2 separate regions of the Homo sapiens genome follow, and region 2 is linked to region 1. A link means that fine-mapping ties the variant in region 1 to the expression of a gene that starts in the linked region. Tissue or cell type: naive CD4 T cells. Region 1 holds a variant in brackets; the other region holds the start of a gene. All regions are shown on one strand. Distances are from middle to middle.

Region 1 (8,269 bases):
TATATTTTAAAACACTACAGGTATTTTAAAATACCGAGGAACACCCTTGCATACAGAAGGCCCCAAATTAAGGAAGTGAATACTTGAATTGTATGCAATGACCACTCTATGATCTTGAACAAACCATTTCTCCTCCTTGTCTTCAGTTTTCTCATTTGTAAAATCAAGGGTTTTCACTAGGTGGTATCTGAGGTCCTTTTAAGTTTATATGCCCCATTATCTGCTCTACACACAGTAACTGCTTTTGTGCAGTTTAAGAGAACAATGTGTTCTTGAAAACCAAGCATTCTGTTGGGAGGATTTACCACCCATGTTTTTTTCAATGCTTCTATTTCAAAGGATAGAAAACAACAAAATAAACTAACCATTATGTTTACTGAACAGTTTATCTGTGCATTATTCAGGAGCCATTCTGGAATTCTGCAGAGGCTTTACATACCTATTTTTTTTAAATAATGAAATACTGAAAGGTCTGCTAAACTTCATGGGGTTTGGATTGAAGATAAAATGAAATGATGAATATAATACATGCAGTACAGTGCCTGGCACATGGTATGTGCTCATGACTGTGAATATCATGGCTACTAGAGAAGAAACTTTTTTTTTTTTTTTGAGATGAGGTCTCACTCTGTCACCGAGGCTGGAGTGCAGTGGCGTGATCTCGGCTCACCGCAACCTCCACCTCCCCATTTCAAGCAATTCTCCTGCCTCAGCCTCCCGAGTAGCTGGGACTACAGGTGCCTGCCACCACACCCGGCTAATTTTTTGTAGTTTTAGTAGAGATGGGGTTTCACCGTGTTAGCCAGGATGGTCTCGATCTCCTGACTTCATGATCTGCCCGCCTCGGCCTCCCAAAGTGCTGGGATTACAGGCATGAGCCACCGTGCCCGGCCGCGAGAATAAACTTTCAAAGTACCCATTTGTAGAGATTTTTTAATTGATAAAATTCACTGAGTAGTGGGCCCTTCTGATGGGCAGGACTTTCAGATCATTCAGATGACATAATTAGTTTCTTAGGAGTTCTCTATGCTCTACTTGCAATTCTCATAAATTCTGTTTCACCTCTCAATTTATACTCATAGATGTACACTCTAAAATGTGGTCCTGTGGCTGGATGGGGTAGCGCCCAAGTGGAAAAGCATATGGGTGAAGGTGCTGCCCTGAGTAGCCCTTTAGCCTTTTTAGATGAAACTTGAACTTACAGTAGAACATTTCCCATACAGAGACCCAAATTAAATTCTATAACTCTTTACTTCACAACTAGTGGTTGGAGGAGGTGGCATATTGGCTCTTCTCACATAAATATCTATAACAGCGGTGCCTGTCCTGGGCTTGGTGGATTTGCCATATTTCAAGTTATCATCAATTATATGCACAACAAGATGGTACTGCTGCTGTACTTCAGCTCTACATTCAAAGTTGAAAGGATTCTTCACAATTAATTTTGGAGTATTTGAACCTCGAGTTGGGTCAAATCCAAAATGATGGTTCTCTTTTCCTTTAAAAGTGATAATTGAGAAGTTAGAATTATTTTAAGGTATATTGAAAGATTTTCTCAAACTACCTTAAATTGCTATTAAAACACAGTAGGCGTAAATTTTTTTAAAATTTCCATTGCACCCTGAGTTTTTATATCTATACATGGCTTATAATAAAGCTGAGATCAAATGAGCAACAATTTCAGTTGGTTAGGAAAAAAAAATTTTGAAGATTAAGATCATGAATCTGATCCCATATATAGCCAGCAAGCCTCAAATTATTATCTAATTGATTCTCCTTTCCTTCTACTCAGATCAATTTGATTCCCATCTTCAACTTAGTCTAGATCAATATCAAATGGGCCGGTCAGATCATAAATATCTATTGAGCCCCTTCTAATTTTAAGTTATCTCCATAGCCCTGGAGACATTGTTGATACACAGGGTCCCTACCTTCATGGAGCTTATCACCCAGCAAGGGAATAAGACATCAAACTAGTCTTTATAATCAATTGGCAATGTCCTTACTGATTTCCAAGCTTCTACTCCTTCAGATACATGACAGCAGGTCTGATCTCCATAATTTAAATAGGTCTCCACGTTATGCTGTCTCATGATACCCAGTAGTTTTCTTTTATAGAACTTATCACAGTATGTAATTTTATAATTGCTGGTGTTACTACTAGTTTAGTAAACAATGAGTGCCGTGAATATCTGTCTCATATACTTCTGTGTACACATTTCCGAGCACATTGCCTGATACATAGTTGGTCCCAATATATGCCTTTCGTAAAAAATAAGATGGCTTAAGTTGATATGGATCTGTGCAAATCCAAAAATAACACAGTTTGAAACCACGCATCCTACTGAATCTGTACTAATAGCATCAAATGGAAAGGTGGCTGTTGTTATCCAGTACCATGGACAGCAGACTTCATTCCTTGTAACTTAACCTTCAACATTTCCCATCCAGGTTCAAAGTCCGTTGTCAAAGCATCTGTAAAATTACTGATACTTCCATTATGGGAGGAATTAGATTTGATATGTGAAAGTAAAAAAGATGCCTTGAGGAAACAATGCTATAGATATTAAATAGTTTAACTGTTATAAACATAATTATTTCTGAAGTTATACATAATATCTAACAGGGCAAAACTAATGTCAATTTGACATATGCTCACGATTAAAAGAAATAATAAAATTATGCACCAGAAACCATCTCAAAACGCATTTCAAAATCTTGTGACTCTCCGTCGTGGCAGTTCAGGGTGAAGCCATTGACATTTGTCCCAAGAACAACATTGTCAAAAATGACTGTCTTATATAGAGAGGGTGTGCAGACAGGTGCTTCATCATTCTCATTTTCAATGTCAACAGTGATCTGTCAGCCATGAGGGAAGAAGAAACATCAAATCCACACCATGTGACTACTTATACACAATATCAGAAATAAGCATAAGGGTAGAGACGGATCATTTGGAATTATTAAATAAAAAGTCTAGAGATTTGGATTTAAAAAAAATGTTCCTGCAGATTGGAATTCTGGCCATCAATCAACTAGTCAGTGGTTTATTATTCCTGGGTTAACTGTGACATTCAATGTAGCCGTTAGGTAGGATTTTGGCTCATTAGATAAGCTTGTGGAAAGCTCACAAATTATGTAAATGATGAGAAAAGGAAAGCTGAAGAATGATGCCTCTAGAAATTGTAATCCCTTGAACTCTTTAAATATCTATGCTTAAAGGCATAGATAAATTTGCTTCCTCTTTCTCAAAAGAACTTCCTCAGTACTACTCTCTCAAACTCAATATTTTATTGGTAACAATATGATTACTTCAAAGTATGCTCTGACCTTAATTAGGGACTGTTATCAACCTTTTCTTAATTAAAATACCATAAACTAGGAAACTATAATTTACGTAGAAAAAGATCAAAATATCAAGAATTTTTAAATGTCAGTGATTGAATACCAGTCAGCCTAGAAAGGTTATCTACCCACTTCTTAGATGACTAATAACTGTCTCAATAATACTTGCAGAAGAATCCGTGGTGCACCAATATTTGCAAGTATTATCTTTTTAAAGTGTTTTATGTAATGTTTTAAAAACATAGCTAAATTCTTAAGGAATGGTTCATTCTTTAATGCTACTTCTATAGACTGAATACAGCTATGTGTCTCACCAAGTATGTGAGACTTTTTACATAATAATTAAACGGATTTTAAGGAGATTTCTGGAATAGTCCAGTGCTATTTCCATTATATCACAGAAAGATATCAGGAATCTTTATTAAAATCCTGGGCCTGACACTTATTGATGACTTTATTTGGCACTAGTGACTTACCTTTTCTTTCTTCAACTGCAAAAAGCAGATCTCAATCTCTACCTTCTCAGGACTGTCAGAAGGATCAGTTCATTCATTCAGTGAATATTTATTGAATACTTACTATGTGCCAAGCACTGATCTAGACACCACAGAAGCTACAGTGGTAAACCAAAAACAAAGACCCTGATCTAATATAATTTATTCTAATGACGAAAGCAAAGCAATAACTATACTGACAAATAAATATATTAGGCAAAATCATAGGATAAGCTGATGCTATTTGGGTTAAGGAGATAGAGAATAGCTGATGGAAGTATTTTAAGAGGGATTTATTTCTTTGACCCACTCACCTATTCCCTCTCTCTCATGTTTGTTATATGTCCTTAAGCATGTATGTATCCTCATAGAATATGTAGCTTTTAGTTGTATAATTTTGACTTGCACAAATGATATGGTGCTATAGACCTTTTGTGTTTCTTACTTTTCTCACCCAGCGCCATATATGTGCTTTCCATGTTTTTGTTTGCAGAATTCATTTGCTATTTCTGGAGTCTGTATTCTGTAGTATGCATCTACCATATTTGCTTGTTCATTTCCCATGATGAACACACATGGATTGCTTCAAATGCCCACCATTACACACAATATAAAAGGCCCTTAGAAACAAATTTCATTTGGGCAGAGATATGATTAAAGTGAGAATATGAGCCAATGGAAGATAAGCATTACAGTCTTTGGCAGAGGTTCTGAGGTAAAACATTGTTGGTGTGTTGGAAAAACAACAAATGTTTCATGTGGCTGGATTGAAGTAAGTAAGAGGGAGAGAGCTAGGAGCTAAAGACAAATTGGTAGCCAGGGCCCAGATCATAGAGGGCACTGCAGACTTTGAAGATGACATTGGAGCTTAACTAAGCATGATGGGAAGCCAATGGAGAATGTTGAGGAACAGGATGATTTATCTTTTTAAAAGGTCACTCTGGCTGTGGTGTGAAGAGTAGGCTGTGAAGGGCACAAGTAGGAATGGGGGTTCTAATCAAGAAGCTGCTACACTAGACCAGGTGAGGTATGGTAAAGGCACAGTTGGGGTATTAGCAGTAGACAAGTTAGAAAAGTAAGAAGTGGAAGGACTTAAGGTACATTCTGAAATTAGAGAAGACAGAAATTGCTGTTGGATTGGAGAAATAATTTAGGGTACATGATAGTGATTAAGTACTCAGACTTAATCCTTCTCCTTCTTTCAGATGGGTAATCTTGGATAAGCTACCTAACTTTGAAGCCTTGGAAATAAAATTCTTCCATCTGTTAAAAGGAGTATCAGTAACTATTCCATAAGATGA[G/A]ATTAAATTCTAAATGAGATAATCAAGGGCATTTCATAGCACTTGACTTTTATTAGATTCTCAATAATGAGTGGGTGATGATGATAGTGATGATGATGATGATGATAGTGATGATGATGATGATGATGGATTCCTAAACTTTGGAGCCTAAAGCCCTATCTCCCTTTTCTGAATTGTGTGTATATATATATATATATATATATATATATATATATATATACACATTATATATATATATACACATTATATATATATACACATTATATATATATACACATTATATATATACACATATATATATACACACACATTATATATATATAAACACATTATATATATATAAATTTGGCATATAAATATATATAAAATTTGGCAGTTGCTATATACTAGTTAACTTCCCACATGTTAAAATTTTGAAGCTCTCTGGTCATATATGCTACCTTATACTTCCTTGTAACAAAGGATGTTGTACATAGAGTAAACATTCAATAAATATTCATTAAAGAAAGAATGAATGAGCAAGCTCCTGCTTTGTTTTTGGGTGAAACAGAGTCACTTGAAGATTTGGGGGTTGTTGAATTATTATTAAATCTGCTTTCCCCTCTTCTCATTTGTAGTAAGTAAATGATAATTCTAAGTGGTATCATCCTATACTATTTGGGAGTCCTTAAATGTCTACAGGAAAAACTGCCACAGGTACCTAGGTCTAAAGATTACTCTTATGGGTATCATACTGAGACAAACAAGCCACTTAATCCCTTCCTCATGACTGTAACTCAGTCCCTGTGAAAGTCATTCTAATTATGATATAAATGGTTGATGTTTTCATCACAATGACACACTCAGAAAACCTAATAACCACATAAGCAGCAAGCCAGGGGGCTCTGTACAATAGGAGGAAATGTACAGGGAGTCATTAGGCCAGATGGAGTCCTTATAATTATTTAAGCCTACTGTTAATGTAAATGATGAGAAAAGGAAAGCTGACGAATGATGCCTCTAGAAATTGTAATCCCTTGAACTCTTTAAATATCTATGCTTAAAGGCATAGATAAATTTGCTTCCTCTTTCTCAAAAGAGCTTCCTGTTTCTTCTCCAATGACAAAACCTTATTGTCATTAATAACACACACCACATCATCAGTACAGCAGCATTCACCCTTGGTTTCTTTCAAGAGTCCTTTGACATTGCTTACATAACTTAGAGGGCCATACCTTCCCCCACTTTGATGCCAAAAGAATGCACCTTGGTTAACTACCTTCATTACAAACATCACCTCTTAACAAGGGGCAGACTGTATTTAAGTCTAGTTCTACAAATCTTATAATTAGGGAATTAAGGGAAGTTTTCTAAACTCTGTCCCTCAGTTTCCTCACCTGTAGGGTGAAAATGATTATAGTATATTATTACCTACCTAAAAAGTTTAAGGTGAAGTTGTACCATGTCAATATATATAATGTGTCTAGAACTGAACACACGGTAAGTACTAGGTGAATATTTGACATTATTATAAGTTTATTATTTTCATCAGAATGAGGGGTATTAGCAGGTTCTTCATTTTCAAACATGCCTCAAACTTTTAAAGTATAACATGTGCAAAAGTTACAGAATGCTTAGGCAGTAAGAGAAAGTTATGAGCTTCTCTATTCTCCATTGTTGTAACTGTTTGGCCAGTCTGATTTTAATAAATTAGAATTTAATAGAGCATCTCTATAATGTCAAAATCTGGGTCTCTCTACTTATCATGGTCATTGCTGTACAAGGGTGAAATCTGTCACAGTCCACAGCTTCCACGGTGAGGTTATATTGCTTCACAGACTCACAGTCTGGCTGTGTGGTAAGTTCGATCATTCCAGAGAGAGGATGAATCCAGAATCTTTGTATAACCTGGGTGTCTCCATTGGCTATTTCGTATGTCACACAATTTGGTGGGTGCTCTTCATCAATGGCAATCACTCTTCCAACTTTATAGAATGCTGCCAATAACATTTTATAAGGCTCATTCTCATCATGCAGATACACTGCTTTAAAAAAAACTTAACATGTCTTTGCCTACCAAATAGTATCACAGTTTCTCAAAGGATCAGCCTCTATTCTTTTGGATAATGAAATATGTTTGAAGACCTTCAACTCAACATAACGGAAAACAAATTCAGAGAAAGTCCTCTATCACTTTAAACCATTTGCCTTGAGTCAAATAACATAAGTTAACAGTAACTTTATAATAATAATGATTAGCTTACATGCACTGCATGAATATTTTCTACTAGGCATCATGCTAAGATTAGCATCAGATAACGGTTCACAGCCCAGACTCTGAAACCAGACTTCCTAGGTTTCAAGTCTCAGGTCTATCATTTATTTGTGCAACTCATTGGAAGATTCTTCAACCGCTCCAGCCCTCATATTATTTATCTGCAAACTAGGAATAATATCTACCATACAAAGTTGTGAGGAGTGAATGAGCTAAAATGTATAAAGCACTTAGAATAGTGCCTGGTATGTAAGTAAATACTAAGTAAAAATTAGCTATTATTTAATTGAATTATCTCATTGAATCTTCTCAACAGGCTTATTATATATCCACTATTACAGTCCTCATTTTATAGATAAGGAAATTAGGTCTAGTGGTATTAAGTAACTTGCTCACTGTCCAGAGCTAATAGTGGTAGAATCAGGATTTAAACTGGTACCTGATGATTCTACAGCCCATATTTTTAAAATCACTTTCTGTAATTCCAGTGTGCAATACCCCCAGATAATCTCTTAGAAGAGAAATGGGTATGATCTATTGGCTGCATAACAAATAGGCTCAAATTACTATTATTATTATTATTGTTATTATTATTTTGAGACAGGGTCTCACTCCATCACCCAGGCAGGAGTGCAGTAGTGCAACCATGGCTTACTACAACCTCAACCTCCTGGCTCAAGTGATCCTCCTGCCTCAGCCTCCTGAGTAGCTGGGAGTACAGGTGCATGCCACCACACCTAAGTAATTAAAAAAAAAAAATTTTAGAGACGAGGTCCCGCTATGTTGCCAAGTCTGGTCTCAAACTCCTGGGCTCAAGCAATCCTTGCACCTTGGCCTCACAAAGTGCTGGAATTACAGGTATGAACCACTGCACC
Region 2 (8,000 bases), 250 kb after region 1:
CTGTCATCTGTAGGTCACTCTCCAGCAGTTAGGCACCTTAACTGGAGACCAGAAACCTTCCAGAGAACACAGGGCTGCATCCCGAGCAACCCTCTGAAGAAGGGAATTAGGCTTTAGATTTTGATAGCAATGTTCCAGGAATGAAATATAGATGTTAGCCCAAGACACCATGACAAAATAGCCCAGCCTTTTGAGAGTAATTTGGGAAAAGAAGCTGTCAGAAGTTTCTAACTTACAAACTGGTTTGAAATTTTTGATGCCCAGACAGCAAGTATAAATCATTTTGGAGGCTTACTTTTCATGATACAAAAGCAATTCTGTGTGATTTTTTTTTTTAAGAAGAAAGAAAATGCAAGCTAGTTTTGAGAAAGGAAGGCCAAATTGGGTCGGGGGAGGGTGGGAGTGAGGAAGTTAAAATCACTATAGGGAGAAAAAACTTTTTTCAAGATTTCCAAAGAGATGAAATTTTCTTAATCCTTTTAAGTTTTCATAGTAAACAGTATGGCAGATTGGGTTGGTTGTCCTACCTGGTCTATTTTTAAAAGTCACCTTTTAAAGTGACATTATTAGATACACTTAAATGTTTCCAAGGCACTCTCTACATTACCCTTGTTTTTCTCTTTGGATACTGTCCTGGGACTAAGTGTAGATTTCTGCTTCAAGCACTTCTGGCATTGTGTGTTTTTGTATGCACTCCCCTTCATGCCACTTCAGATGTTTATTTGGATGTGGTTGGGGACGAGAGCAGACACCAAGGAAAGGGAGTTGGAGAGAATGTAAGTCCTGACCTGAAGGTCTTTTGTGATGCATGTATAGGATTGCCCTGACACACACCCTCCTTTCTTGGGATTATACCAGCCATCTTCCTGAGAGTTTTGGAGCCCTCTAGGATATTTTTTCTAGTACCCCACCCCCCACCCCTAAAGAAAGACCTTAATATGTTAAAACAGCATTGCTTGGAGAAGGTGTCATTGAATTCCGGGACGAGCCGGAGCCTTTAAATGGGTGCTTCCACCACTACAGGCTCCTGACACGAGTAACAGGCACTGTTGCTTAGAAGAACACACGAAGTTGCCGAACACAGGGTAAAATTTCCAAGGCGCTGATCGTTGCCCTGGCCAGGGCCTGATGAGAGCCAGTCAGTACATTCTTTTTTTCCTACAGTTCTTGGGTTTCAAACTTCAGTTTCAGGGAATTTCAAGTCAACAACAGGTAGAATGAATAAACTTGGTTACCAGCCTAATAATGTGAATTGCTACAGAATTATTCTTATTATGTAAGAAAACAAAAACTTTATGCAGATACTTTAGCTATAAATTGATGTAAAATACTGATTTTTTTAAAGGAAGGAGAGAACAGTATCTTGTTCAATTATTATGCAATCAATCAGTAAATGTTTTTAAAATGATACTACAGGAGAGCTTAGTAAGGAGAGGGCATGGATGGGCCAGTTTGGCATAGTTGGGAGAAATCAGTCTGGTTTCCATCCCAGTCGGGGAAGAGAGAGGTGAGAGGGAATCAGAACGTACCTAGTTGATTCCTTGGTGACAAGTGCAATGGGGTATGGGTAGAATTTATTTTCAGAGCCAAGAGGACTTGATGGTTATAAATAAAGTTGCCTTTAGCAATGGAATTTACAGATCGATCATGTTGTTCCGAAAGATGTGAATAGGATCCACAATAACAAGTTGATTCAGACTAATGTAGATATTTAGATTAGCAAGTATTGAACATTTGATTTCTTAGACTGAGGTTTTAAATGAATTTCATTATTTCTCCCGGTAATACACAGAGCATCGGGATTAGGAAATTAGCCATTTTGGATTCTGTCTGCCACAAACAGACCTATTCTAAACAGTGCTATTAAATTTTAGACTGTTGTTCAAATATTTTATTTTCTCCTAAACTACTTTTTATGGTGATGAATAATTAAGACCATTTAAAACACGGGAGTACAAGTATTTTTTTGAATTAAATTAACTTGCAAAAACCAAATTTGCAGTGGTTGGGTTGTTTCTAGACAGACTTTGGTATCAATTTAAAACCAAGATAATTTTTATATTCTTTCCAATAGAATTTCATGACAACTCCTGCAGTTTTCTTAACCTACAAAAAAAAAAAAAAAGTGCTGCAATGATGAACAAAGAATTATACAAAACCTACTTTTGTATCTTTATTTTGGAATTTCTTGTTCTATTATAAATATGGAAGTATCCCTATTTCAGAAGACATATTTTGTTAAAAATGAATTGTACATATTTAAATATGTATTTTTGCACAGGTCTTTTTTTCTGATATCCTGTTTTGGTACAATTGAGATCATCTAGTATTTATTTATTAATTAATAAAAGTAAATACCTTTTTATAATTTGAAGTGGTTCACTGCCAAGCCAATAGTTCTAGAACCTGCCTCCTTTACAGTTTTAAGGGATGCCTCTGTTCTGTGAAAAGTCTTTGTCCCTTTTAGTGTCTCGGGAGTGGATTCATACAGATGAAGTGGGCATTGCTTCTTCCTGGTTGCCTGGTTTCCCGATAGACTACATGTAACTAAGTGACACACTGCTTTTCTTTTGTTAGTATTTTATGTGTGGGAGTATGTGACTGCGTGTGTGTGTGCCTGTGCGTGTGTGTGTATACTCAGCACATGTATGTTACTATGTGATGTGGTTTAAAACTAATGGAAAAAACTGAAAGTGCCTGAAACTAGTTTTAAGCTTAGACAGAATCTCTTTAAAAAGACTTGAATGTTCAGTTGAACTTTTGGAGTTTGCTTTTTCCACCTAAATATTGTTTCTAAAATTTTAGGGGCGGAGTTGAAAACCACCAATGCTGGTAATTTTATAAGGTATTTTAAAATTAAGACCTCTTGGTTCATAGTAATTCAATTGGTGATGGATTGCCTGGTGGCACCAAGGGTTACAGATCTTTTTGTCAGCCAGCAACTTACACGATGTGTCCGTTTTGTTATTCACTCATGAAATACAATTTAAAATATTTAAAATATTTTGTATTCCAAAAATATAATACAAAGAAGTACCTCTGAGAACATTGAAAAAAATGTATAATTTGAAAAATGTAACTTATAAGGGCAGCTGTCTTCCTGCAAGAGTTCTGTTGCCAAGGAATTTCTTAATGTCGCTCATTCTGTCCAGGGGGTTTGGGGCGATTGGGCTTTGAAAAAATATTCTTAAAAGTTTGTTTAGCAGAAAATAATCACTTTTACATTTTGTGCAAAACATTTTACATTTTCAGATAATTTAAATGAGCACTACATACTGTCAGTGTGAATGTAGGGCCTTGAAAGCATTTTGCTTTTTTTTTTTTTTTTTTTTTTTTGAGCTTGGTTATAAAAGCAATCTCCTGTGTTAAAAACGTGTGAATAGTTTGATAATTTGTACACATAATCAAGAGCATCTCAGCTGGACTTTGTGTTGGCTGCTGTATAGAACATGAACAAATGTCAAGGGATAGAAAATTACTTTGGATATTTAAAAGAGAAGAAATATATAGTCTATTTGTTTTGTAACAAGTTTCTGTAAATAAAATAATTTATACTATTTATAAGAAAAGGTTGTGCTTTGCTTTATAAGAAATTAGCTTGTGGAACAAACATGTTACTAAACGGGCAATAAAATTAGGACTTCTCAATAAATAAGGTTGGCTGCATGAAATATTGTACGTTTCTGCCTCGTTGTGATACTAAACCCTTTCAGTCTACTCTGACTTTTCATCACTTTTGGCATGGAACACCCTTGTGAAGCCCCTTCAATTTAGCCTTCCTCTTATATAAGCTAAATACTTCTAAGGCCTGGGGATGTTTCCATCTGGGGGCACAAAGCTTTGCTTTGGATAAATTAGTAACTGTGTAAACAGTGAACATTACTGTATTCTGGCCTTGCATGTTTGTGAAAGAAACGAGGGAGTTGATGGATTGAGAAACACATTCTATTTGTACTTAGGTGCAAATTTGATGACATGTAGTTTTGGTTTAAGATAAGCTTTTTATCCAGACCCGGTCTAATCTCTTCCTTTCTTTTACATACCTCCCTTACTGGCAATACAAGTGCATTTTAGTATTATTTGGAACACAGCATAATCATTTACCTCTAGAAATCCAGACATTTTTACTGTTTGCAAATAAACCATTCTGATAAATTATTTTTGTTGCTTAAAATAAGAGGAGGAACCGCTGTGTGTTAGCAAGAATGTCCATACCTGATATGAAAGAGTCATGTTGGCTTCAGTTCCTACTGCCCTGTGGACTTCCCATTCCCTCCTTACTTGAGTCAACCATCCACTCAGTACTTTCCACAAATCTAATAATGAGGTGCTCTCTGTAGGTAAATCCTTTCACTATGGCTTGTCCTCAAACCTCCCAAGAAAAGGTTCAACTGCTCAATCTCTTAACCTTTTTAATTCCATTCCCTTGCAGGTATCCCGGCCCTGCATAACAAGATGATCCCAACTCAAGGAAAGGGGTTTAGCAGTGTTGGATCTTGGCGTATGTGGGATTTAACCAGGCAGAAAGGCAGACAAGAGTAAGATTCTAGGCAGAGAGAGCAAATGCGTCGAGCATGGGTATGAACATGTGAGGGATAGAGAATAATTCTGCAGGAAGTTTGCTGGATGGAAGGGCCTTATAGGGTTAGAAAAGCTGGTGTCAGATTGTCAAGGACTTTGAATGTCATGGGGCTTCTCTTCCAGGAACACATGGGATCAGGCTTAGATTAACCCAAATGTAATTGTCAGAGCCCAGAGATATTTCATGGTCCAGTCCTAGCACTGTGCAGCTGCCAAAAGTCAAAGCCATTCAAATCTGTACTGAAAACTGTGGAAAAGCAAAGGAGCACTTAAGTCTCTTTCCCCATGTCTTGCATTCTCACTCTCTTTTGCTTCAAAGATCTGTCTTTACCTGCCCCTGTCCCCAGTCCTAACAAAAAGCACTCCCCTAAATCAACTCTTAAGTTCCTCTCCCTTCTCACTCCTTTCTTAGTCTCCTCTTTCTGTAAGAAGTTCTTGCTCCTGTTGTTAATGGAAGTTAATTAAAGTAGTATTTCACCTTGTAAGGCTGTAATTCTTGGCACTTGTTATCCTCATTTTCTACATCCAAAGACCATGGACCAGAATATCTCTTAGGAGGTAAGGGAGAGTGAGGCTATCAGCCAAAGAAAAAGTCTCCAGGGGGAAGGGGAGAATCACTTATAATTTAATACTTTGTGGAAAAAACATCTCTGCCACCTATGGCCCTCCAATAACAATGGAAGACAGAATCAACAGGTGAGAACCTTGGGACAAAAATAAGTTACAAAGCTGTTGTAATCCAGGTAAGAGCTATTAAGTTTCCAAACGAAGGCTGACTGTGAGGATAAGTGATACTGATTTCAGAAATCTTTAAAAAGTAGAACCAACAAGCCTTGAGGTCTAACTCTGTTCAACATTAAAGGGAAGAGTGAGTCTAAGAAGACTTCAGGTTTCTAGCTTGGCCAAACCAATTGAGCTTTAAGTGAAATGTGCGATATGGTAACAGAGAAGGAAAAAGACATAACGATAGATTTGAGCTGCTGGTGGGAAATTCTGGTTTAGTGCCCAGCTGGCTGTACAGGCTGGTTGGACTTTAGGAGGGAGGTTTGAGCTGGAAAATAAAGATGGAGAGTTGTCTTTCAGTTTTAGATCATCAGTGAGGTCATAAGGGTAGATGGAGTTTACCTGGGAAAATTAAGTAGCTATTCGATTTGGCTTATTATTATGTTAAAATAATACTTCTCTAGTGAAGTACTTAATATGCCAGATACTGTGCCAAGCATTTTATATACATCCTCTCTTTTACTAAGCCCTCATAGGGCAGGTATTTTGATTCCAATCATACTGATTGGAACTCCTAAGAAGGTATCTTGCTTAAGGTCCCACAACGAATAGGTGGCAGATCCAGGGTAATTCAGGTCTGTCAGAACAGTGATTCTTAATTTTTTCCCTCCTCAGACTCCAGGAGTCACATGAAGTTATGCATCCTGTCTGACCGAGGCACAGGCACACCACATTTTTATATTCCGCTTCCAGGATATCACAAACCTGAAGCCCATCCTCCATGGCCCAGAGAGAAAACCCAGGACAAAACCTTGGAGAAGACTATTTTCATGAAGACAAATGGAGAAGGAGCAGTAGAGTAAAAAGAGAGGTAAGGGAAGGCATTGAGATGGTTTACAGGGTTAGATGTTTTGAGTCAATCCCATTATAATTACCAATGCTATCTACCTATTTAGTTAACGTTTTATTGCCCTGCTGTTTTCTCCAGGATAATTGGAACAGCATGTATTGGTTGGGTGGAAAAGATAGAACTTGAGCAGGGAGATTGCCAAAGAGTGAAGATGTGGCTGAGTGATTGATGATGGTCTGAACTGGGTATTCAGGGAAGAGAACTAGAAGCCAACCATGTAGAATCTATGCAGGTGCTCTTAAGACATTGGTTTGACTGGAATTATCTTCTTGTTAGGTCTTAGGAATCTCCTTCCAGGTAACTTTTTCTATGATTAGACAATTGATTTGTTCAGGGTCACAGAGCAAAGTCCACATTTAATTCCACATGGCCAATAAAAGTGAGGGGCTACAAGGTGAGATCCAGGGGCCAGAGTTATCAAAGTGATACAGCACTTTTAGGAATAGGACAGGGAATGGAGGAATTGGAATTCCAGTATTACTTTCAAAAGCAGAACTGGCCAGAGGAATTGGAATTCCAGTATTATTTTCAAAAGCAGAACTGGCCAGAGGTGCTTGTGATTCCTGGGTGGAAACCATGGCAGTGGACAGAAGCAGCATGGAGGAAAAGAGCACTGGAATTCAGGCTGAGGAACTGTGAAGCCAAGGGTGTTGTATAGGTTGTCCATTTCAAATTAGGGTTGCTTGGTTCTGGGATGATTTGCATGGAAGAGGGGAGAGTGACTTGGAGATGTGTGATTGAGGACAGTGAGCACAGTGAGTTGATGGTGTTGCTGGGTTATAAGCAGCTTCAAAGAGAAGGCATTTTGAATGAAGGTGGAAACATAATGGCCAGGAGAACAAGCAAAGGACTAGGAAACAGTGAACTTCATCTTGGCCTCAAGTTCCTGAGGTGCATATGAATAAACAGTCTCTAACCCAGAGGGTTTCAAGAAAAGCAGAGTCCTCAAAATCCAAAGGTAGAGTTTCCCCACATTGATATTATACTAATTACACGTATAACAGTACTTTGGAAAAGCACAGGTCTCTGGTCACCTCTAAAAGGCAAGGTTGGTAAGGAGGTCAGGGTGTCACCTGTTGGTAGTCTTAACTAAATGGTCTCTTCAAGGGATCTAAGGATGGAAAGGGGATATATAATGGTTGGATTAAAGGCTCATCATTGATTAGCAAATTGTCCCTTTTGTTTCTTAAACCCAATTTGTACAGGGAAAGTTATGCCACTGTAAGATATTTTTAAATGGGGAAAAAAAAAAAAAAAAAAAAAAGGTTATACCCTTTGACCATGTATGTCAAGGTTAAAATGGCCTGGATCAGATTGCTACAAATTCCTGATAGCCTTTGTATTCCTTCAGAAACACAAGCATAATGCAAATCTGTGGCTCTACAGCTTTGAAACCAAAACTAGTGATTATCAGAGCTTTTCATGTTATCCAGATGGGGATTTTACCCCACTCCCCCATTGCCATTGTGGAGGCACAGGTTTGTTACCAGCAACTACAAGTTTATGTAGCATTGGGAAGGTCAGGGATTATCATAGTTCCCTCCACGCTTTTTCCCCCATAATCATGGGGGCAGATATTTCAGCTGTCAGCTGTTCATCTTAAAAACATTAGGTTAACAGCAGCACCAAGGACTAATTCAGAATATGAAATTACAGAAATGATTTGCTAATGATTTAGTAGCCTTTTATCAGTTAATGTTTGGTCAGGTTATAAAAGACCAAATGTGTTCAGTCACAAAATCCTAAGTGTATTGAGTATTGCATGCTTAGTGATCAAGTTGTAGGC

Alleles and levels. Positions count from the first base shown, and alleles are read on the strand shown. Sizes are in standard deviations (SD) of each study's normalised expression.
For the expression in naive CD4 T cells of the gene that starts at base 4,129 in region 2, A is the high allele of the variant in region 1 and G is the other (large effect, 1.0 SD a copy in Schmiedel 2018).

What was found. PIP is the estimated chance that this variant, and not a neighbour inherited with it, causes the effect.
Region 2: PSMD6-AS2 starts here. The variant in region 1 is fine-mapped to the expression of PSMD6-AS2 in naive CD4 T cells (Schmiedel 2018, PIP 0.95).

Annotation. Positions count from the first base shown.
Region 1 is chr3:63,751,363-63,759,631 of GRCh38, forward strand. It overlaps the pseudogene CDHR18P. Among named protein-coding and RNA genes, the nearest start is that of C3orf49, 64 kb to the right of the region's middle. The variant G/A (reference allele first, on the strand shown) is at 5,141.
Region 2 is chr3:63,999,894-64,007,893 of GRCh38, forward strand. PSMD6-AS2 (PSMD6 antisense RNA 2) reads left to right here and starts at 4,129. Exons shown (of 3, transcript NR_038286.1): 1 at 4,129-6,175. ATXN7 (ataxin 7) reads left to right here. Exons shown (of 13, transcript NM_001377405.1): 13 at 1-3,569. RefSeq lists an enhancer at 551-1,052.